Homo sapiens: one gene and its partners. The protein of the gene in region 1 interacts with the protein of each later gene in a biochemical or structural test. Each region holds a gene or a part of one and is shown in the gene's direction. Other genes may lie near its edges.

Region 1 (4,717 bases):
CCCCGTCTCTACTAAAAATACAAAAAAAATTAGCTGGGCGTGGTGGCGCGCGCTTGTAATCCCAGCTACTCGCTACTTGGGAGGCTGAGGCAGGAGAATCGCTTGAACCCAGGAGGGGGAGGTTGCAGTGAGCCGAGATTGTGCGCTTTTGCATTCCAGCCTGGGCGACAAGAGTGAGACTGTTTCAAAAAAAAAAAAAAAAAAAAAAAAACCTCAAAGACGGGAAAAGATATACAGCTACTGCTTTCTATTCTGTTTAGGAGAAGCTATATTCTAATTGCTTGATGAAAGATAGTGACAGTCTGATATTGAGCAATTGCCTTTAGTTAATAATGGGTTTATAAAACCAAAGATGCTCACTAAGTTCGGAAAAATTTTAAAGGGATCACTTAAATTGTTGTTAGTGTGTGCCTGTTGAAAATTCAGCTGACCTGTAATTTTCTGGCCTAGTGTCTGCACTGCTTGGGGAGGAAGATGAAGAGGCACTGCATTATTTGACCAGAGTTGAAGTGACAGAATTTGAAGATATTAAATCAGGTTACAGAATAGATTTTGTAAGTATCTCTAACTTAATCTTGTTTGCCACTGTGGAAATTAATGTGAGCTTTGGTTGGAAGACCTGTTCATATTTCTAATCTTTCAATTATTTATTACAGTATTTTGATGAAAATCCTTACTTTGAAAATAAAGTTCTCTCCAAAGAATTTCATCTGAATGAGAGTGGTGATCCATCTTCGAAGTCCACCGAAATCAAATGGAAATCTGGAAAGGTATGTTTTGAGGAATTATTTGACAAAAATAGCATTTTGCCTATTTCAGTTTAGTTTTAACCACTTACAAGTGCTTGATACTTTGGTCATGTGGCTAAATACAAAACCTTAAAATATAAAACGTTCCAGTGTGCTGAAGCCAAGTATTACAGTAGTTTAGGGTTCTCATTAGATACTACAGATGTAGGCAGGAAGATCTCTTGAGCCTAGGAGTTTACCCTGGGCAACATAGACCCTTACCTTCCAAAAAACAAAAAAAAAGAGAAAAATCTAGCCCAAGTTTAAGAATTGAGAACTGGACTAAATTTTTTGTTGCTGTTGTTTTCTGCAGTGGTGACTGAGCTCTTCAAATGGCTTGCCATTTCTCAAAATCATTTACATCCGTATTTAGGTAGTAAGACATAGTTTAGATATTTATACTGTGTTGTGCTAGTGGCTGTTAACAGTGGAACTAATTTTATGGAAAACCAAATGTAGTTGATACTACCTCTACCTGCTGCACAGTTTTATAATTGCTCTTAGGTAATAATGGTAGCGTAGATAGTATACTGATATTTGTTTTGCTTAGCTTTTGGGGAAAATCTTATTTTTTAAATTATAGGGAGTTTGGGTGTTATGGAGAGATTGTATCAAAAGCTCTTCCGGTATTCATTTAGGATTTGACGAAACGTTCGAGTCAAACGCAGAATAAAGCCAGCAGGAAGAGGCAGCATGAGGAACCAGAGAGCTTCTTTACCTGGTTTACTGACCATTCTGATGCAGGTGCTGATGAGTTAGGAGAGGTCATCAAAGATGATATTTGGCCAAACCCATTACAGTACTACTTGGTGAGTTCTAATACTCATTTATTCAAGGTTGGACTTGTCTCGGTTGTTTAAAAATGAGTCCTTATATTGTGCTTTTTTTTTTTTAAGGTTCCCGATATGGATGATGAAGAAGGAGAAGGAGAAGAAGATGATGATGATGATGAAGAGGAGGAAGGATTAGAAGATATTGACGAAGAAGGGGATGAGGATGAAGGTGAAGAAGATGAAGATGATGATGAAGGGGAGGAAGGAGAGGTAAAAGAAAATTTGGCTAAACCCACAAAGATAACTTTTAAAGAATTCATGTTATTTTGGGGTGTATATATATATATATAGTGTGGTAGAACTGACCAGAACTGATTGTGGAAAAAAAGTAAGCCATTTTGTTGTTCAAGAATTAAGGAAATGTTTGATAAGCACATGGTACTAATGTTTAACTAGGTTTTTTTTGGTTTTTTTTTGGGTTTTTTTGGTTAGACTTATCACCACCCAAGCTTGTTTTTCCCTAGCCAGTACTTAGGCAATATAGGCAGTGTAGCTGGTCAAATTCTGACATCTCTGAAATAACAAAGTTTCATGTATTTTCGACAAACTGCACAATTTCTGAATAGTCAAATTAGGATAGGTTGGTTTTATTTCGGATTATTTGATCCGAAATATACCTGATTTGGTTAGAACTGAAGTTACTAATTAATCTGAAGCAACATCATCACGGGTGTTTCCTTCGATGCAGCTGACTTACAGGTTTAGAAACTGGAGTGCCCCCAGGGGCACTCGTGGGGTCCATTGTGGTCCATATGAAAGCAAGTCTCAGCATTAATCCTGAAGATTAACTGCCCACTTTTTCTTTCAGGAGGATGAAGGAGAAGATGACTAAATAGAACACTGATGGATTCCAACCTTCCTTTTTTTAAATTTTCTCCAGTCCCTGGGAGCAAGTTGCAGTCTTTTTTTTTTTTTTTTTTTTTTTTCCCTCTTGTGCTCAGTCGCCCTGTTCTTGAGGTCTCTTTTCTCTACTCCATGGTTCTCAATTTATTTGGGGGGAAATACCTTGAGCAGAATACAATGGGAAAAGAGTCTCTACCCCTTTCTGTTCGAAGTTCATTTTTATCCCTTCCTGTCTGAACAAAAACTGTATGGAATCAACACCACCGAGCTCTGTGGGAAAAAAGAAAAACCTGCTCCCTTCGCTCTGCTGGAAGCTGGAGGGTGCTAGGCCCCTGTGTAGTAGTGCATAGAATTCTAGCTTTTTTCCTCCTTTCTCTGTATATTGGGCTCAGAGAGTACACTGTGTCTCTATGTGAATATGGACAGTTAGCATTTACCAACATGTATCTGTCTACTTTCTCTTGTTTAAAAAAAGAAAAAAAAACTTAAAAAAATGGGGTTATAGAAGGTCAGCAAAGGGTGGGTTTGAGATGTTTGGGTGGGTTAAGTGGGCATTTTGACAACATGGCTTCTCCTTTGGCATGTTTAATTGTGATATTTGACAGACATCCTTGCAGTTTAAGATGACACTTTTAAAATAAATTCTCTCCTAATGATGACTTGAGCCCTGCCACTCAATGGGAGAATCAGCAGAACCTGTAGGATCTTATTTGGAATTGACATTCTCTATTGTAATTTTGTTCCTGTTTATTTTTAAATTTTCTTTTTGTTTCACTGGAAAGGAAAGATGATGCTCAGTTTTAAACGTTAAAAGTGTACAAGTTGCTTTGTTACAATAAAACTAAATGTGTACACAAAGGATTTGATGCTTTTCTCTCAGCATAGGTATGCTTACTATGACCTTCCAAGTTTGACTTGTATAACATCACTGTCAAACTTTGTCACCCTAACTTCGTATTTTTTGATACGCACTTTGCAGGATGACCTCAGGGCTATGTGGATTGAGTAATGGGATTTGAATCAATGTATTAATATCTCCATAGCTGGGAAACGTGGGTTCAATTTGCCATTGGTTTCTGAAAGTATTCACATCATTTGGGATACCAGATAGCTCAATACTCTCTGAGTACATTGTGCCCTTGATTTTTATCTCCAAGTGGCAGTTTTTAAAATTGGCCTTTTACCTGGATATAAATTAATTGTGCCTGCCACCACCATCCAACAGACCTGGTGCTCTAATGCCAAGTTATACACGGGACAGTTGCTGGCATGTCTTCATTGGCTATATAAAATGTGGCCAAGAAGATAGGCTCTCAGTAAGAAGTCTGATGGTGAGCAGTAACTGTCCCTGCTTTCTGGTATAAAGCTCTCAAATGTGACCATGTGAATCTGGGTGGGATAATGGACTCAGCTCTGTCTGCTCAATGCCATTGTGCAGAGAAGCACCCTAATGCATAAGCTTTTTAATGCTGTAAAATATAGTCGCTGAAATTAAATGCCACTTTTTCAGAGGTGAATTAATGGACAGTCTGGTGAACTTCAAAAGCTTTTTGATGTATAAAACTTGATAAATGGAACTATTCCATCAATAGGCAAAAGTGTAACAACCTATCTAGATGGATAGTATGTAATTTCTGCACAGGTCTCTGTTTAGTAAATACATCACTGTATACCGATCAGGAATCTTGCTCCAATAAAGGAACATAAAGATTTTTTTTGGACTGGGGTCATTCTCCTTGTTTTATAGAGAAATGTTACTTGCTATTGGATTCAGAAATTGTTCTAGTTTTTTGTCTTCACATCGTTAGTGACTGGGGAAGCGTGGGTTAGCGCTAATGGTATGACATTGGTTTAGAAAGCTTTGAGCTGGTCGGTGTCCGAGTAAAGGACAAATTCAAATATCTTACTTGGATACAGTTTCTGAGTAAACAGTTTCTGAGAGGGTGAGTATAGCATTTTCATTCTGAAGTCTCAAAAGGACTTTTCACTAGGAAGAAAATTGAGTACAGTGGGTCCTGTTATCTGCAGCTTCAGCTACATGTGGTCAACTACAATTCAGATACTTTGAGACTACATTCACACCTATACTGTATGTTAAATGTGTGAATGTATAGTTATAGTATACAATAGTCAAAATTATCCTATACCGTTAATCTCTTACTGTGCTTAATTTGGAAATTAAGTTTTATAGGCAGGTACAGGAAAAATTGTATGGGGCTTGATACTCCTGTGGTTTCAGGCAGCCACTGGGGC
Region 2 (7,042 bases), on another chromosome or scaffold:
CTTAATAGATGTTATCGAGTATTGTTATACAATTATCTGTGCCTTCCATGGTAATAACCAAGGAACTAATCTGATGTTGACGAGATAAGACTGGGAAGACCTCCCTCTCTGACAGCCAAGTTCTTCTCCCTCTCTCTTAGGCAAGAGAAATCTCCAAGACATAGGGACCCTGCCTTTGCTGCCAGACCTCAAGGGGCGGGTCTAAGCAGAACCACTGTTGAGTGTCCAGGCGCGCTGGCAGAGAAAAGAAGAGGCTTGAAGGGGGTTGGCACGGGGTTCAAAGAGGGATTGAGGAAAGAGCACTGGACTGGGAGTCACCAAAAGCCAAATTTGGGTCCTGATTCCCCTATTTATGAGGTGTGTCACCTTGGACCAGTCAGAGAACAATCTTTTACTGGTAAGGAATACACAGCCCGTCAGCTTTACCAGCCTTGAAAAAGGTTATTGTTAGGCTCAATGGAGACAATGTTTACAGATGTCTTCAGCAGACCCACTATAAGCCGCACTGTAGTTCTGCTCCATATATGAATCTCTTCCAGGAAAGCTCAGGGTGGGACTCCGGAAACCACATTTTAAACCAACACCTCCAGGTGATTCTGAAGCAAGTCTGAAGACTGCATTTGGGGAAATCCTGTGCTGTGCAACTGAAAAACACTGGCATTATTACTTCCTCTTTGTGTGAATTCAGACTTCAGTTTAGCTAAGGAGGTGGCATCCCAGAACTCAAGTAATTCCAGGTACCCTGTGGGCAGAAAATTTGACCTGAGTAGCACAGATTACAGTTGAAGGATATCTAGAAATTGAAAGGTCAGAAGGAATAATGGTCTGCTTGGGTTGTTTTTGGTCTTAACATGTCCCAGTGGAGACAAAAATAACCAAAACATTTCAAAGGCAATAACTAGCCGAGTAAATTAGTAAAAGACGAAAGAAACCCAGACATTTTTTCAGCATCCCTCCCTTAGTGAGAATCCACCCTCCATACCTCTCATTTGTACCTCATAGCCTTCTTTGTGTGAGTCATTTAGGCACGTGCCCACCTTTCTGTTAGAGCATTCATCCTGAAGATTTTTATGTCATCCTTCTCCTACAAAGTTTTGGGTTTAGTGGGTATGTTGAATTTGAATTCAAATCAATCCTAGGAAATCCAGTCCACATCCTATGAGAAATTTCCACCCGGTCCTGATTTTGCAATAGGCAAACTTTTCAACAAATAGAGCTGGAATTCCCAAAATAAATAAAAATAAACTCTTTTGGTAGAAACCAAAAAGTGGTCATTCCAGGCAGTCACAGCTCTGCCATAAGCAAACCCACTCTACCACAGGCATTTGCCATTTTCAAATCTGAAACAATCATGTCTTCCTTTTTCTGTATGTTTCTGTGCTCTTTGTAACTTTTATTAATCTTTATTAATCTATATGCATGAGTATGTGTGTTTTTACTGCAATCTACTTTGGTAGCTTTTCCAAGTAGCAAAGAAATAGTTACATGTAAACAAACAAATACAATTAAAAGATCTGAGGTGGACTTCATAAAGATAGACACTGTAATGGAATGTATCTGTAGTATACAAATGGCTCTACGGTTCTGCCAAAATCTCCAAAAAATTATTTCTACTTTATCACTGCTGTAAATGTAATTTTATCCAACAAAGAGTAAATCAGATCAATTGTGGCACTGTTGAAACACTGGTACTAGAACTGTGTATGACCAGAGATTTAAAAAGCAAACCTTGCCAGGCACAGAGACTCACGCCTGTAATCCCAGCACTTTGGGAGGCTGAGGCCAGTAGATCACCTGAGGTCAGGAGATTGAGACCACCCTGGCCAACATGATGAAATTCCGTCTTTACTAAAAATACAAAAATTAGCCAGGTGTGGCGGCACAAGCCTGTAGTCCCAGCCTCTCGGGAGGCTGAGGCAGGAGAATCGCTTGATCCTGGGAGGCGGAGGTTGCTGTGAGCCGAGATGGCGCCACTGAACTCCAGCCTGGGAAACAGAGCAAGACTCCTTCTCAAAAAAAAAAACGTTAAAAAAGAAAGCCAAAAAACAAACCTATTTCTTCACCTCACTCACCAGTTCGTATCCTCTAAATCTCCCCGATGGAATGGCTACTAACCTTAAAGTATCTTCATTTTAAATTAGCACTGTTTTCTTACCTTGAGGAAAGTTTTCCTTTCTTGTCCAAATCTTTGTTCTAATTGAGGGGACAGGACATATGGACATATCTGACTGTCATGTAATAGGCCTTACTTCCCCACATTGACCTGAGATGAAGTCTAGGCATGTGGGTGAGCAAGTGTAGGGTGGGGATCTTTGTGGTTTTTGTTTGTTTGTTTGTTTGTTTGTTTGTTTGTTTTTAAGAGATGGGGCCTTGTTCTGTCACCCAGGCTGTGACACTTCAGCCTCCAGCTCCAGGACTCAAGCAATCCCTCCTGCTTCAGCCTCTCAAACAGCTGGGACTGTAGGCATGCACCACCATGCCCAGCATGCACCAGTGTGCCCCTTAATGTTTTTTTAGAGATGGGGGTCTCACTGTATTGCCCAGGTTTCTCTCAAACTCCTGGCCTCAAATGATCCTCCCACCTCAGTCTCCCAAGTGGCTGGGATTACAGGCATGAGCCACCACACCTGGCTACCTTAATTATTAAAACACTTAATGTTGGGAAGATAAAAAAAGTTCTGGGGTTCTGGAGATGATAGTGGTGGATGAACAACAATATACATGTCCTTCATACCACCAAACTGTACATTAAAGAATGGTTAAAATGGTAAATTTTACCATTCTTATACCATTATGTATACTTTACCACAATAAACAAATTTTAATGGTAGTTGGTGTAAATCTCAAACTACAAACTCAAGGAATATAATTTGCTTTATTTTTACATAAATGAACATAATTTTGTTTTAAACTTGATCTAAGTCAATTAGGATTTCACTCCTTTTTCTTCCCCCAGTTGGATACAAGTTCTGATATTCTTTTGCAATGCCAGGGAATTGGTTTAGGGTGGGATTAAGGGCAAGTCATTTGGCCCTTAATATCAATTCATGCTGGGCTCCACTAAGACCTTTGTCACTCCACCTAATCTTAGGCAGGTTACCTTGGAGATAGCCCTTGTTTCTCTGTGTATACAACCCTCTCGACCATCACCACTCCCCACTGGGGGATTTGGAAATCATTCTGCTGCTTTCATTGTCTTTGCTTTTTTTAGGTTTACCAAAGGCCAGTCTCCCACTGTGGTTTTAGGCGCACACTCTCTCTCAAAGAATGAGGCCTCCAAACAAACACTGGAGATCAAAAAATTTATACCATTCTCAAGAGTTACATCAGATCCTCAATCAAATGATATCATGCTGGTTAAGGTAGGTAGTAGCATTGTCTTCCTTCTATTTTGTCAACATTTTTATACAGGATGGCTCAATTAGTTAAATCACCTACAAAATGCATTTTGCTAGCACCCTCCCCATGTTTGAGGTGATTATGATATATTTTATAAGGGCCCATGTTATTCCATATACTGTCTTGAAAGAAACAAGAATTTATCACAAATGCACCAGGGCTGTGTTTATACAAGGAAAAGCAACTCTGATACTCAACATATGTAGGAGGGGAACATCTTAACAGGCCCAAGGATCCACACTGAAAGCTTTTCTCCCAAATGCTTTTCTCATTAGCAAGTAAAAAAATACAACAGTTGTTTATACAACAGAGCCAACCAAGTGACTTCGGGGGCTCAGCAGTGAGTTACAGCTTAGTCTAGACCACACTTAATTTAGTCCGAACTTGGTCTAGACCATACTCAAGGGTCCTATCCGGCAGGAAGCAGCCCAGCCCTCAAAGTCATGACCTATGGATGTTATTCCACACAAAACCATCCAATGCAGGGCAAAGGCCAGTTTGCTCGAGACTGAACAAATTCCTGCTCTCTATAAGCTCCCGCCCCAAGCCTCAGTGAGCTCCTCGGGGAGTAGAGAGCATGGTCAGAAAAGCAACAACCACAAATGCAGCTGCAGGCCACCACCAAAGTAGATCCCAGAACAGGGACGCCCGCCTAAGACAGAGGGACCACACATACGACGCACAGGCTAGCATCAGAATACTACTGGGAAAGAAATAATTCCATCTTTTTTCAATCTGTCAGCTTCAAACAGCCGCAAAACTCAATAAACATGTCAAGATGCTCCACATAAGATCCAAAACCTCTCTTAGATCTGGAACCAAATGCAAGGTTACTGGCTGGGGAGCCACCGATCCAGATTCATTAAGACCTTCTGACACCCTGCGAGAAGTCACTGTTACTGTCCTAAGTCGAAAACTTTGCAACAGCCAAAGTTACTACAACGGCGACCCTTTTATCACCAAAGACATGGTCTGTGCAGGAGATGCCAAAGGCCAGAAGGATTCCTGTAAGGTAAGAATCTCTCTTTCAAACAGGCATCTTGGAGCGCTGTACAGTAGCCAAGCCTCTATTGCTCACTGACACTGAGGAGGAGGGAGGGGCATGGAGAATACAAAACCACAATTCTAAACACTTTCTCTTCATTCCTGCACAGCATTCTCTATTCTTTTTCATCTACCAATGTGGATGGATTGTAAAAACTTCCCCAATACTTTATAAGCACCCACTAAATGTTTGTTAATCAGGATAATAGACCATATCTGACAACTTTTACAGGCTTCCTATGAGAGGTGTTATCCTCCTTACAAAGTCTACCAACCCTGAAGTCACTAGTGGTGATTAGAAGATAACTTATTTAAAGAACCACCTTGCAGATTAATCAATAAGGAGGCCTTAAAGACTCAAATGCAAAAAGCTCAAATATACAGTATGTGTTTCATAAGTAATGCTGACTGACTGTCTTCGTCTGTTTGGGCTGCTACCACAAAATACCATAAACTCGGTGGCTTATAAATAACAGAACTTTATTCTGTTCAAGATCAAGATCAAGGCACCAGCACATTTGGTGTCTGGGGAGGGCCTACTTTCTGGTTCATAAACAGCTTCTTTTCACTCTAATCTCACATGGTAGATGGGGTGAGGGGTCTCTCTTAGGCCTCTTTAATAAGGGAACTAATCTCATTCATGAAGCCTTCACCTCCATGACCTAATCACTTCCCAAAATCACCACCTCCTAATACTCTCACCTTGGGAGTGAGGATTGCAACATATGAATTCGGAGGAATCAGACTTTCAGACCATACCACTGACTAACAAAAAGGAACAAAAGGCCGGGCATGGTGGCTCACACCTGTAATCCCAGCACTTTGGGAGGCCAAGGTGGATGGATCTGTTGAACTCAGGAGTTTGAGACCAGCCTGGGCGATATGGTGAAAACCCGTTTCTACAAAAAATACAAAAATTAGCCAGGTGTGGTGGCACACGCCTGTAGTCCCACCTACTCAGGAGGCTGAGGGGGGAGGATCACCTGAGCCCAGGAGGTTGAGGCTGAAGTGAGCCGAGATCTTGCCACTGCATTCCAGTCTGGGTGACAAAATGAGACCCTGTCTTAAAAGAAAAAAAGGAACAAGAGTCATTATGTTTTTCAAAATCATTTGTTTATTGAGATGGTAAGGAAAAAAATAGGTGTTCATGTTTGTATGAACTATACTAATATATAGCACAAATGAATTACTAATTTTTTAAAAATTAGAATACAGTATTCATCTCATACTATATTAAGTATAATTGGGGGAGAGGATATGATGACTTCAAATGTCTTGTGCATCTGCAGTACCCAAGACCATCACCCTCCTAAACATCGGTTATCATGGTTGACCAAAGTATAAGGCACTGCAGTTTGCAATGTGAACATTAGCAAAGAGAAAGGCTGGTCTTCAAATGTAGAAGCCAGCTCTTCATCAAAAGGCCATGCCATCCCCTCTATAGCTCTTTCCCTTCACTTGATAGAATTTAGTTACATGCTTTGCTGTTAGAGTGTCTTCAAAAATCATTTCATTCACTAAGTATTTACTAAGTATGGTACATATACATAACACTATGTCCAACCATGTGAGGATGCAAAAAATAAATAAATAACAGAGAACATATAATTCCTGCCATGAAGACATTTACTACAATACATTGCTCTTTTCTGCTAGCCTCAATAACAACTCGATTTTAGGTCTGTGAGCATCAAAATGAAATCTACAATTTTAAAAGATTATTTTATTTCAGTGGATTATTTAAAACTTTATCCATTCTTTAATAAATAGTCAATAGTCATTGATTCCCAGAGGAATGTAGACATAGATAGGGACAAAACAGAGATATAGACATGGACACTGAGACAGAGGCAGAGGCATAGTCATAGTCATAGATAGAGACATAAACAGAGAAGCAAGTAGGCAGAAACATAGTCCTTGACAGAGACAGGCACATGGACAACCTATAACGAGTAAGAGGCAGTGTCAGACACTCTTCTGGACATAAAGAAAGCAAAGACCCAGATGATAATCCCTTGAGCAATCAGCAGTTGGTGGTTAAAAAACAAAAATATCCCAACAGCTTCTTACCACGTATTTGCCCTTTTTCTTCCTTCCAGGGTGACTCAGGGGGCCCCTTGATCTGTAAAGGTGTCTTCCACGCTATAGTCTCTGGAGGTCATGAATGTGGTGTTGCCACAAAGCCTGGAATCTACACCCTGTTAACCAAGAAATACCAGACTTGGATCAAAAGCAACCTTGTCCCGCCTCATACAAATTAAGTTACAAATAATTTTATTGGATGCACTTGCTTCTTTTTTCCTAATATGCTCGCAGGTTAGAGTTGGGTGTAAGTAAAGCAGAGCACATATGGGGTCCATTTTTGCACTTGTAAGTCATTTTATTAAGGAATCAAGTTCTTTTTCACTTGTATCACTGATGTATTTCTACCATGCTGGTTTTATTCTAAATAAAATTTAGAAGACTCTCTGTTTGTCTTTTATCACATGAAGTAATATCTGCCCCCATTGCACCCACACTCGCCAAAGGGCAATAAGGTCACTGAATAAAACAGTAATGGTACCACCTTCAACTAGGTGTAACTTCTGCTGGATCATCC
Region 3 (5,149 bases), on another chromosome or scaffold:
AAAAAGTTTGTAAAGATACTCTAATTTGGGGAAACATTAATAAAAAGAGTAGGCCGGGCACAGTGGCTTACACCTGTAATCCCAGCACTTTGGGAGGCCAAGGCAGGTGGATCACATGAGGTCAGGAGTTTGAGACTAGCCTGGCCAACATGGTGAAACCCCATCTCTATTAAAAATACAAAATTAGCCAGGCGTGGTGGCGCATGCCTGTAATCCCAGCTACTTTGGAGGCTGAGGCAGGAGAATTGTTTGAACCTAGGAGGCAGAGGTTGCAGTGAGCCGAGATCGCACCATTGCACTCCAGCCTGGGCAACGAGAGTGAGACTCCATCTCAAAATAAAATAAAATAAAATAAATAAAATAAAATAAAATAAATAAAATAAAATAAAATAAAATAAAATAAAATAAAATAAAATAAAATAAAATAAAATAAATAAAATAAAATAAAATAAAATAAAATAAAATAAAATAAAATAAATAAAATAAAATAAAATAAATAAAATAAAATAAAATAAAATAAAATAAAATAAAATAAAATAAAAAAATAAAATAAAATAAAATAAAATAAAATAAAATAAAAAATAAAATAAAATAAAATAAAATAAAATAAAATAAAATAAAATAAATAAAATAAAATAAAATAAAATAAAATAAAATAAAATATAAAATAAAATAAAATATAAAATAAAATAAAATAAATAAAATAAAATAAAGTAGATCCCACTGAAGCCATGGGAGGTTCATATGTATCTTCACATCGCTTAAGTCTTTGGGCACTTGCTTGAGCCTAAAAGGAAGTTAGGCCCACACTTGCCACAAAGAATCAGGCAATGAGGAAGCAGCATCCACAAGCTCTTTCTGTACATCTCCACTGAGCCATTGGGTACAGGTGCTGCAGAGCTTTGCTTCTGTCATGACTGCGTGACCAGGTAGAATTAGCCTCAGCATGGAAGGGTGAAACTTTCAGTGCCCCCTCAGAGCCCTGGGTGCAACCATCAAGTACAGAAAGCTTGTGTCCAATGACCTTCTTGTATGCCTCCGTGAATTCCTCTCACATCTTTGGCCATCTCTTCACTCCTGTCGACCACTACATTCAAACCTCTTCCCAGGCCTGGTCTTTTCCTACTCTCTAAATCAAGCCTCTAAACCTAGGCCATTCAATATGATAGGCACTAGCTACATGTAGCTATGTAAATTTCAATCAATTAAAGTTAAATAAAATCTCAAATTAGTTCCTCAGTTGCACTAGCCACATTTCAAGTCCTCAGTAGCCACATGTGGCTAGTGCAGATTCATAGAACATTTCATCATAAAAATATGCTCTACTGGAAAGCACTGTTCTAAGGTCTTTTTCTTTTATTTTTTAATTATTTACTTTTTATTGACATATAATAGTTGCACATATGTTGGGGATACATGTGACCATTTAAGTGAGACTAATCTCAGCTGATGTAATGGAAAAGAGGCAGTGTGCATAATCTGGTTGGTGTAGTTTATACTAGGTTATGAATGATAGCCTTAATCCAATCATCAGTACATCAGAAAGCATTTTGATTTTGATAACCAAAATGAACCTTTAAGAGAAAAAAAGACTCCTGGACCCCTCCTTCAGACCACCATCCCTTCAACACACTCAATGCCAAGCACACTCAATGCCAAGCAAATAGGGTCCTCCATGGGGCAATCTGTTTCTGAAAGTTTTCCCATTTGAGTTTGTTGTTTTCTTGAAAAGATCCCTTCAGTGCATTACTTTACAACTATTGGCTGCTTTTTGCTTCTGTCTCTGGACTACTGAGATCTTTGCTTCCCATCACAGCTAATAAGTAATTCTCCATCACAGCTAAATAAGGCAGGGGTAGGGGGCAGATAAGCACAAGACTTGGCTTTGCTGCCATGGAATTCTCTTGTTTTTCAATGAACCTAGTTTAGCTTTTTATAAATAAGCTGGTGATGATGATGATGACGATAAATTCATAAACATTCTTTTATTCATAAACATTCTTTTATTCTTTAAAGCACACATTTTCTTTCTGAGCCACAAAGAAATCTCCCCACCTCCATATTTACAAATGGGACAATGAAACTGATCAGTATATATGCTCAACTGCCAATACAAAGAATAAATCCAGTAAATAATGTTGTGTCTGTTCTCAGGAACAAAAGGTCCCAGGTCATTCTTGGGGCTCACTCAATAACCAGGGAAGAGCCAACAAAACAGATAATGCTTGTTAAGAAAGAGTTTCCCTATCCATGCTATGACCCAGCCACACGCGAAGGTGACCTTAAACTTTTACAGGTACGTATCTTTGATTGTCTTCTCAAAAGTCATAGAACCTTCTACAATCTGGCCGCCGACGTGAAAACCTTTCCTTGGTGCCCCTGTTGTAAAAACTCACAATAAAGAGGATCCTGAAATTTTGGACTATAATTTAAAATGTAAATATTTATCTTATCCCATTAACACTTTATGTTTTTCTTCCAACAGCTGATGGAAAAAGCAAAAATTAACAAATATGTGACTATCCTTCATCTACCTAAAAAGGGGGACGATGTGAAACCAGGAACCATGTGCCAAGTTGCAGGGTGGGGCAGGACTCACAATAGTGCATCTTGGTCCGATACTCTGAGAGAAGTCAATATCACCATCATAGACAGAAAAGTCTGCAATGATCGAAATCACTATAATTTTAACCCTGTGATTGGAATGAATATGGTTTGTGCTGGAAGCCTCCGAGGTGGAAGAGACTCGTGCAATGTAAGTAAAATAAGATCCCACGTTTCAGCTATTGAATTAAGTCATGCAGACAGAGAAAATGTAATGTCATGCTTTGTTTTGTCATGGCACTGGCTTCTACAGGATCCTAGAGCTTTTTGAAATAAGTTTAATAAAACCCCAGTCAAATAAATGAATGCTCGCAGCTCAAGTGAGTCATTAATCAAAAATAAGAAGTTCACTGCTAGTGCATGGGGTGACCTACTACATATTTTTGATTTTTTACAAAAATTACTAAGAAGCAATGTTTGGTCTCATTTTTCATGTTAACATACGTAGATCTAAACTTGAAGATATACAACACTTATGAGAGCTGAAGTCAGGGTTCCTCAAGGCCACTCAGTACTCTTTCCCCATTTCAGTACATTCCCTCTCCTTCCCCACTACGTTCCTCTGCCATTTAACATCGGCATGTCTGAAATGTCTGTCAAGCCTGGCTGAATATTTCCAGCCAGACCCCATAGCTTCCTAGAGCTTAGTTTAATCTGCAGCAAACTTCAAAGCATGACTCATACCAGAAAATGTGTAAGCTTCCATCCTAGAACCCCCTGAGAAGAGGTGGGATAGGGCCATGCTTAAAGATGAGAATAGAAGAAACATTTTGCAGATTTTTAAACTGAGTACTACCTTGCATTTCTCATTTGTCCCAAAGACCCTATAGAGCCTTACCTGAAGAAGGGTGTGCAGTATGCATGGTTTGGCAGTTACCAGAGACTGAGAAATCCAAAGGTCTCTGTCCTTCCCTAGATCTATGTCTTGCTTTCAGAACCAAAGCTAGCCAAATCCCAGGAAAAGAAAACATTTGTCTTCAGTACCTGTCCACTTTCTCTTCTCTGCCCTAGTTCCCCCATTCCCTCCCTTGTCCACCACCCTGGGTTCCCAGGAACCCAGAACCTTCATGCTTTTGGAACCCACATGCAGCATCCTAAGGCCACGGCAGCATCCCAAGACGCTAGTCCCCATCCCACCAGCCACCCGCCACCACCGAAACTTGGCAATCCTTGCCTGTTCTCTCAACACCCTGGAATTGGCTATTGATGAATTAAACCTAAAGGACTAATTCTGCAAATGCCAGTTACTGTAACAGGCAGGGGAAATAAACCTGTTCAGGGAGGATCCCGGGTTCCAACATGGTTCTTTATTTCATATCTTTATAAGGCCAACTTTTGCCTGAAAGGGACTGATTTGGTTTTGTTTCTTTTGGAAGGCAATTATCTGCTAGAAGAACCACAAAACATAGTGTTTATTCTTTGCTTCAATGTATCATCTGCATTTGACTATTTTGCCCCTTGAGTTATTAAGCATTTTGAGAAAACGACAAATAAACAGGAGACTTTCCTTTCCAAAAGCAGAGCAATAGTCTCAAAATTAGCTGATAACATGTACAAGTTTCACTTCGATTTTCACTGGCTCATAAATAAACCAAGTGAACCAATTCAAAAATATTAAAATATTTCCAAACATTTTAATTTTTAAAATTAAAGCACTATCTTCAATTAAGTCAAGGTTGGTCTTAACTGCATATTAAATGCTGCAGAATTTCTTCCATTTCACTAGTGGTAATGCTGAACACTGACCCCACACCCTACCCCTCTTGTTTTCCTCCAGGGAGATTCTGGAAGCCCTTTGTTGTGCGAGGGTGTTTTCCGAGGGGTCACTTCCTTTGGCCTTGAAAATAAATGCGGAGACCCTCGTGGGCCTGGTGTCTATATTCTTCTCTCAAAGAAACACCTCAACTGGATAATTATGACTATCAAGGGAGCAGTTTAAATAACCGTTTCCTTTCATTTACTGTGGCTTCTTAATCTTTTCACAAATAAAATCAATTTGCATGACTGTACCTGTTTCTCTCTTGTAACCTTAGTGGGCAGATCTGCACCAGCAAAGTGAAGCAGAGTTACATGGCAGCCTTGTAGATAATGCAAGGATTACGTGATCAATGTCACCAGAGTCATTTGTGCGTCAAGTGACATGGGAATGCTTCCTGAATTATTCATCTCTCTGTCTCCATGAAATCCAGCAAGAACAACCCTAAGATCAGGTCTAATAACAAATGCAGTAAAGGCCTCCACAATTCCACAGGAAACAGAAACAGCCAGTCTGGAACATTTGTGTTAAAAGGAAATATAGGGCATTGTTCCACATTAACACCTGCTTTTCATGTTATACACAAGAACCTGAGTCTATGGGAGAAAAAGAAACAAGCAATGCCTTACGGTATTTTCCAAATTCTAGGGCATACAAATAAAGTGCTTGGGCAGCCAAGAAAATTATACAATAGAGAGTCAGCCTTCTTTCTCAGTGCCTTGCATTTAAGCCTTGGATTACCTAGGTGATTTCTCAGTTCTCTTTGTTCTTGAGACGGGGTAGATCCAA
Region 4 (7,042 bases), on another chromosome or scaffold:
TTCAGATGTGGAAACTAAGTTTTATAAATTTTTCAACAGGCTTTGTTTTACTAAACAATCCTTTGCTGTTGTTGTTGTTTGAAACAGGGTCTCACTCTGTTGCCCAAGCTGGAGTGCAATGGCATGATCACGTGAGGCTCCCTGTAGCCTCCACCTCCCTGGCTCAGGTGATCCTGCCACCTCAGCCTCCCGAGTAGCTGGGACTACAGGCACACGCCACCATGGCTGGCTAATTTTTTGTATTTTTGGAGAAACAGGGTTTTGCTATGTTGCCCAGGCTGGACTAAACAATACCTTTAAAGTTGCTATTTTTATTTTACTCTCTTAAGATAGCTTTTGGCTCATTTATATTACAAAATATTAAGGATTGTGTTTAAAACAAAAGCAAGACTGTGCTTTCAGGTTATCAATCACTAATGGTGTTTTTGAAAAGATTTTTTAAAATGCTACAGAAAATAACTGTTGAATACTTATCTCATATTTATATTCAAGACAAGATGGATTTAGAGAAATTCTGTTTTTCCTTTTGAAAAATAGGGTATTTGGAATTAAGATCTCAATACATGGGTTTAATAGCAGATTGGACATAGCAAAAGAGAGGATTAATGAACTGCATAGAAAATATCAGGCTAAACCATGGAGAACAAAAAGGATGAAAGGTGCAGAAACGAGCATACAAGTGAATTGGTGAAAAGATCTGACATACCTGTCATTGGAGTCCTAGGTGGAGGACCTCTGAATAGAACAGGGCAAAAGCAAGCAAACTAATTTTTTAAAAACACTGGCATTTGAAGGGCTCATGACTAAGACTTTTTCAAAACAAATGGAGGATTTCTAGTGTTCTGGTGATGTGCTATTATTTGATCTGGGTGCTGGTTACCTGAGTGTTTAACTTTGTGAAAACTGACTGGTGTCATGATTTGTATGCACTTCTACTACATGTTATATTTCAATAGAAAAATCTAAGTGAATTGAGCCATATACAGAATTCTATAAAATCATGAGACAAATGTGACTTTCATAGGAACTGAATTTCAATAATATTCTCTGATATTGGTGTATTGATCTTGATTGATCTTTTTAAAAATGATTAAGAGAAATTAACAAAATTTACTTTTAATTTTGTTGGAAATTATTTCAATGTAAGGTCAAAGTACTTTAGTAAGCAGAATGAATTCATTTCTAGTATTAAATGTATTAAAATGAAAAATACAGCTTTACTTTAAATTCCATTTTTTGAATATTCATAAAAATAGTCCTTCCTATTTTTTAAAAGAAAAATCTTTAATTTTTTCATTGTGTGAAAGGTTGTTAAAATATTTACTCATATAACCTTAGTAAACTGTTCCTGAGCACAATCTGTGAAATTAACTCCCAGCCTTTTTAGCTTTTTTGCTTTATATAAATATTCTGTGATCTCTTCTGTTTAGTAAATAAGTATATTTTCTGTGTGATAATTGATTTTTTTCTTTTTTTCTTCAGTCCTGGCTTCTGAAAGAAATCGTTTTTAGTTGTTGAGCGTGGTAAACAGTATAGATATGTATAAGGAGCAAATAAAAAGTCCCTGCCTATTTTCCTCACTTCTCCTGACTATTTTGTTATCAGGGCCTTTTTTTTTTTTTTTTTTTTAAGACAGCTTTACAGAGAATGCTTTTCTATACTTAGATTGAAACTAGATAAAGAGCCAGGGTATTTTTAAAATACTTAATAAATTTAAAGGGAGCATATTAGACAGTAAGAACTTTATTTTGAAAGTAAGCTGAAATTTGAGAAATGCTTTTACAAGTATGTAAAGATTACAAGACTGTTCTTTCTTTCAGATTTTGTATCAGATTGTACCATCTCATAAATTGATGTTGGAATTCCATACATTACTTAGAAAATCAGGTAATAAATAAATGTTGTTTTATACCTTGTGTAGACAAGCTATAGACTAGGGACCAGCAAACTAGTTTAGCCCATCGGCTAAATCCACCCCTTTCCTGATTTTATAAATCAAGTTCTGTTGGAGTCCATCTGTTTCTGTATTGTCTGCGGCTGCTTTTGCACTATAGTGACAGAGCCGTGTAGTTGTGACAGAGACTGTATGCCTTGCAAAGCTTAAAATATTTATTATCTGGGCCTTTATAGAAAAAGTTTGCCTACTCCTGTTACACAATGTGAAGGCAGTAGTTTGCAAAAGAGAAATGGCTCGATTTTATATAATTCACTCCATTTTAATCCCTGCTACATTTCAGCACACCATAGAAGAGAGCATGCTCCTTCATAGAAGAAAATCAGCTGGCTAAGCCCAAGCTGGTCCTAGGACTGCCTAGGTTCCTCTCTGAATATGAAAGAACATGTATAAAATGCCCAAACAGGGCAGGTACTTTAAATAATGTCCTTAGTAGAGGAGTGTAACCCATATTGAGATCAAATTCACCACCATTACCTCATTAGCAGGGATTTTTATTGAGTTTTTCAGATTCATTGCAGGAGTAAGAGCATAATGAATTTTTAAAAACTGTTAACCAGAAGGCTTATGATTCAGTATTTTATCAACAACATATATGTAAAGTATATATACAGTTGATAAAATGTATACATGTAAATTTTAGCTTTGTACACTTTAATACCTTATGTAAACTTGAACTGTTAAAACCATTGCAGAAAAAGAAGAACACCGTAAACTGGGGTTGGAGGTATTATTTGGAGTCTTAGATTTTGCCGGATGCACTAAGAATATAACTGCTTGGAAATACTTGGCAAAATATCTGAAAAATATCTTAATGGGGTAAGAAACATACAGTGTTTATTACTAGGTCATCATAAATAATATTTCCCAATATTTTAGCTAATATCAATTTTTAAAGATCTTTGCTTATGTTTTATAATTTCTTGAATTGTGTCTTCAGCTGTTTTCTGAGTACATTTTCTTCTGAAGCAAAGAAATACAGAGTCATAAGGAGAACATACAAAAATTCTATCAATTTTTTTATGCCATCAAAATAAATCCTGTACTTAGCACTACTGCTTGCTAAGGAATACGTATGTGTTTTCCATTTGGAAATAAAGACTAGCAGGGATCACTCTTTGCTAAAGACTCTTTGTGATTTGTGCGTCATTAACTTGTAAGATCACATGGGAAGCAGCTTTCCTCCTACCTGTGTTTGATCATTTTCAGTGAGTATTTTTAGGACCTGACAAGATCATCATACACTAGTCATTTAACAAATACTCATTAAATCCATTTTGACCTGGGTATCTAAAAGTGTACCTCTGATCATAATATTGTTAGTGTCACATTTTGAGTAAAAGAAAATGAATTTCCTGTTATTTTTACTTAGTGTGTGAGAAGAAGGGATATTACAAAGTTGTTTCATATATTTATTATATCCAATTTAGTTGTTAGGCAATTCAGTGTCAGTTGGAAATTGTTTCAGGCTTCAGATCTGACTTGTCCCGATGGGACAGTGCTGTTTATAAAATGGTTTTGGTGTCATATGTTGACGCACTCACTGTAAAGCATTTTCTAAATCTGAAGCCCTGAATAAACTTCTACTAGATCATAAGGTCCTTGAAAGCAAAGAGGTTCATTTTTTCGAACCTCTATTTGTTCTACCATAGGGGGCACATGGGTGCCAATAAGCATTTGCTCAATTAAATTATAGAGATCTAATGTGCAACGTAGACTGTAGTTAATATTGTATTGCATATAGGAAATTTACTATGAGTAGAGTTCAGGTGCTCCCACCACTCAAAAAAGTTAACTATATGTATATGAAACATGTTGTATACCTTAAATATATACAATAAAAAAAATTATTCACAGACACACAGAATTGCCTGCACTTAACAGTTTAACATATGTCTTAATGTATTTGTATAATAATGGTATCTCCATTTGGATAGTAATTCATGGCAGCATATAATTTTAAGTAAGGTTTTACTTAAGTAATAGTAATAGATAATATTTATTGAACATTTACTATGTACCAGACACTATGCAAAGAGCTTTATATGAGACCTGCTGTACCCTACTACTAGAATAGTTTAATCTTAATAACATTCCTATGAGATCAGTACCACTAATGTCCTCAAGGGCACTGAAGCTCAGAGAGGTTCAGCAACTTGCCCAGGATCACATACATAGTAGATGGAAGAGCTGATATTTGAATCCAGGATTCTGGCTTCGAGTCTGTTCTGTAACCACTGTGCTAAACTGTCTGTTTAGTGAAATGGAAAATGGGATATGGAGATGGAAGAGAACAAAAAAGGATTTGCTTTCCTGCTGTTGCCAATCATGTGTTATGCCTTGGCCATATTGAGAATTTAGCTTGGAAGCATCTTCCTTGTCATCTTTCTGTAGACTCTAGTTAAGTCTAAATTCTGATAATATAGATTTGTTTCCATCATTGACCCTCTCTTTTGACATTTTTCTTTTCCAGAAACCACCTTGCGTGGGTTCAAGAAGAGTGGAACTCCAGGAAAAACTGGTGGCCAGGCTTTCATTTCAGCTACTTTTGGGCAAAAAGTGATTGGAAGGAAGATACAGCTTTGGCCTGTGAGAAAGCTTTTGTGGCTGGTTTACTGTTAGGAAAAGGTACAGTTTTTATTTTCGTTTTATCTAGACACAGCTTTGGCTGATTTTGAAATTATGAAGTATGGCCTTCATTTAGAGCTTACCTAACATGGTACCTAAAAATATTAGGTGCTTAAGACATAACTGCTCAATGGAAGAGTGAATCCTGAGTTGGGACTATGTGCTTAGATTAGAAGCAGTGATTTCATATTGATTGTGAACGGTTTTCATCTCCTGACTTGAGTGTTGTTAGGGGGCCATTAAGATACATGATACAGAGTTTTCACAATAATTGACCATTTGGCCTTGTTTTATAGAAAGTTTACTGAGATTTTCAAGTGTCAAAATATTCTTTATTGACCTCACTGTTCTTTAATAGCTTCATATTATACTAATATTTACTTACCTGTTTCTGTAAGCGTGAAACATTTCCTCCACTTAAGAGAAAGAATACCTCCTACTAGCATATGAAAAAAATTCTCTTCAAAGAAAAGGGATATTGATTTTTTCTTCAAAGAAAAGAAATATTTTGGGTGGTAAAATTCTTACCTGCTTTCTGCCACTGAAATTATTAAAAGGTGGCCAGTACCGAAATGAAACTACCACAGAGTATGTCCAGAAATGAAGAAAATAAATCTTACAGTGACCACTAGTAAGCAGTCCATTGCTAGGGAGCTTAAGGTGTCCTGAAGAGATTCTCCAATTCACTTTTGAATATGGTTTCTATTATTTTGGAATTAGTAGTCTCAGTGAATGTAATACAATGTTGATTAAGAAGAAAATAAAAATCAATACACTGATGACAAGGAACAGAAAGGTGATTTGGATTGTCATTTTTCTACTTTATGAGTAGAGCGGCATCTAGCACAATTATCAAGAGGTCTCTTTGAGCAGAGTAGGAAGATCTGGGTTAATTTTCCAATTCACTCCCTTGCTATCTAACTTAGGTCAAGCAATTAACTTTTAGGAGCCTTTTCTATGAAGTGGGCATTGTAACACCCATCTTATTGTTGTAAGTATCATGTGAACATCGCATCAAAGTGCTTTGTAATTTCTAAAGTGCTCTACAAATATCAGGCATCAGTTACTCCCGCAAGAGCCACATCTCCTCTCAGGCTGTTAGTGTGGGGTTGAGTCAGTCTATTCATTAGTTAAGCTGGGTTTTCTTCTTGCTCTGGTTACCAACCTTACTTTATAGGATTCAAATTCTGGGTGTGGTCTGCCTTTGCTTTGTGCTTTGAGTGGGGTATGGTGGCTCTCTTTCTTTCCATGCTGCACTAAAAGCAAGCCAGGCCCATTTCTCCTTGGAGGGGTCTTTCCTTGTTGGGATTGAAGCTACTTGGTTGCCCTGTGACTTCAGCTCTCATGGACTTGAGAGTTAGTTTATTAAGCTTTTTCTCTATGTTAGGGTGGGAACGAAATTCTTTCCAGCTTTCTATATAGGTACAGGCAAAAATCTGTGTGCAAAGTATTTTGTTTTTTACTAAGGTAGTATGATATGTTTAGAAATACAAATTATTTTAGTAACACTACAGACACCACTGCTTCCCAGCTAGTAAAACGTTACTAGCTGGGTGCGGTGGCATGCAGTGTGCCTGTAATCCTAGCTACTTGGGAGGCTGAGGTGGGAGGATTACTTGAGCCCAGGAGTTTGAAACCACTTTGTGTCCCATAGTGAGACCCCATCTCAGGAAAAACAACAAAACAAAGATGTTAGCAATTCTGGCATACTAGTTTCAGGAATAATAAAAATGGTTACTATAGGTACAGTATATGTCCTTGCATTTTCTCAGAGAAGATGGATGCATACAAGCTGAAACTGTAATGAAATTAATTTTTCATATGTGAATTATGGTCTTATTCATTTACCAACTCTAAAAAACCTCAATATCCAGTTTACATTTTTCTTACAGAAATATGATTCATTTGTCTGAAATATTTGACAAATGCTTGACAGTCCTTTGTGTGTTGTAAGACTTATGAACAGCAGGTGGAACTTCTAATGAGCATGAGGCACCTCTGTGAGAGCTACATGGTCTCCACCTTGCTGCTCTCTACATGGCTAGAATGAATAGATAATGTTTGACCGTTTCTAACCTATGATTTGTTTATTCTAATCCTTCACATCCTAAGATTTTCTACAGAGAACTTTCTTACTGTTATGAACGTAACTTTGGCTGATTTACAAGCTAACATTGAGAAGGAAGCTATACGAATGTGCTTTTGGAGAAGGCTCATTTAATATGTGACTGTATATAATATGCCTGTCACCATCACTAGGGTGTAGGAGGAAGAGTAGAAAACAAGCTAAAGTCTATGCTTTAATTATGGTGGATTAGAAACATCTTTATATATAGGAAGAAATATGTTTCGTTGGGCACAGCTGAGAATATACTTATGCCATATTGGTAATACAAATAAATTTTGTATATAGGAACAAATGTATTTCATTGGGCACAGCTGAGAATATGCTTAGGACAT

The links.
Region 2: of the proteins of SET (region 1) and GZMK, one has a biochemical effect on the other in vitro, tested with the Homo sapiens proteins (3 studies listed by BioGRID).
Region 3: the proteins of SET (region 1) and GZMA form a complex in vitro, tested with the Homo sapiens proteins (2 studies listed by BioGRID, with this or other methods).
Region 4: the proteins of SET (region 1) and TAF1A form a complex in vitro, tested with the Homo sapiens proteins (one study listed by BioGRID).

Annotation. Positions count from the first base shown.
Region 1 is NC_000009.12:128,692,212-128,696,928, forward strand, and holds the end of SET (protein SET), read left to right. Parts: intron 1-450; coding exon 451-554; intron 555-656; coding exon 657-770; intron 771-1,426; coding exon 1,427-1,597; intron 1,598-1,684; coding exon 1,685-1,831; intron 1,832-2,429; coding exon 2,430-2,453; 3' UTR 2,454-4,185; downstream 4,186-4,717. UniProt on the Homo sapiens protein: Multitasking protein, involved in apoptosis, transcription, nucleosome assembly and histone chaperoning. Isoform 2 anti-apoptotic activity is mediated by inhibition of the GZMA-activated DNase, NME1.
Region 2 is NC_000005.10:55,027,223-55,034,264, forward strand, and holds part of GZMK (granzyme K precursor), read left to right. Parts: intron 1-3,211; coding exon 3,212-3,362; intron 3,363-4,141; coding exon 4,142-4,411; intron 4,412-6,542; coding exon 6,543-6,704; 3' UTR 6,705-7,042.
Region 3 is NC_000005.10:55,105,640-55,110,788, forward strand, and holds the end of GZMA (granzyme A precursor), read left to right. Parts: intron 1-2,154; coding exon 2,155-2,296; intron 2,297-2,485; coding exon 2,486-2,755; intron 2,756-4,381; coding exon 4,382-4,543; 3' UTR 4,544-4,613; downstream 4,614-5,149. UniProt on the Homo sapiens protein: Abundant protease in the cytosolic granules of cytotoxic T-cells and NK-cells which activates caspase-independent pyroptosis when delivered into the target cell through the immunological synapse. It cleaves after Lys or Arg.
Region 4 is NC_000001.11:222,558,904-222,565,945, reverse strand, and holds part of TAF1A (TATA box-binding protein-associated factor RNA polymerase I subunit A), read left to right. Parts: intron 1-1,820; coding exon 1,821-1,887; intron 1,888-2,649; coding exon 2,650-2,773; intron 2,774-4,427; coding exon 4,428-4,582; intron 4,583-7,042. UniProt on the Homo sapiens protein: Component of the transcription factor SL1/TIF-IB complex, which is involved in the assembly of the PIC (pre-initiation complex) during RNA polymerase I-dependent transcription.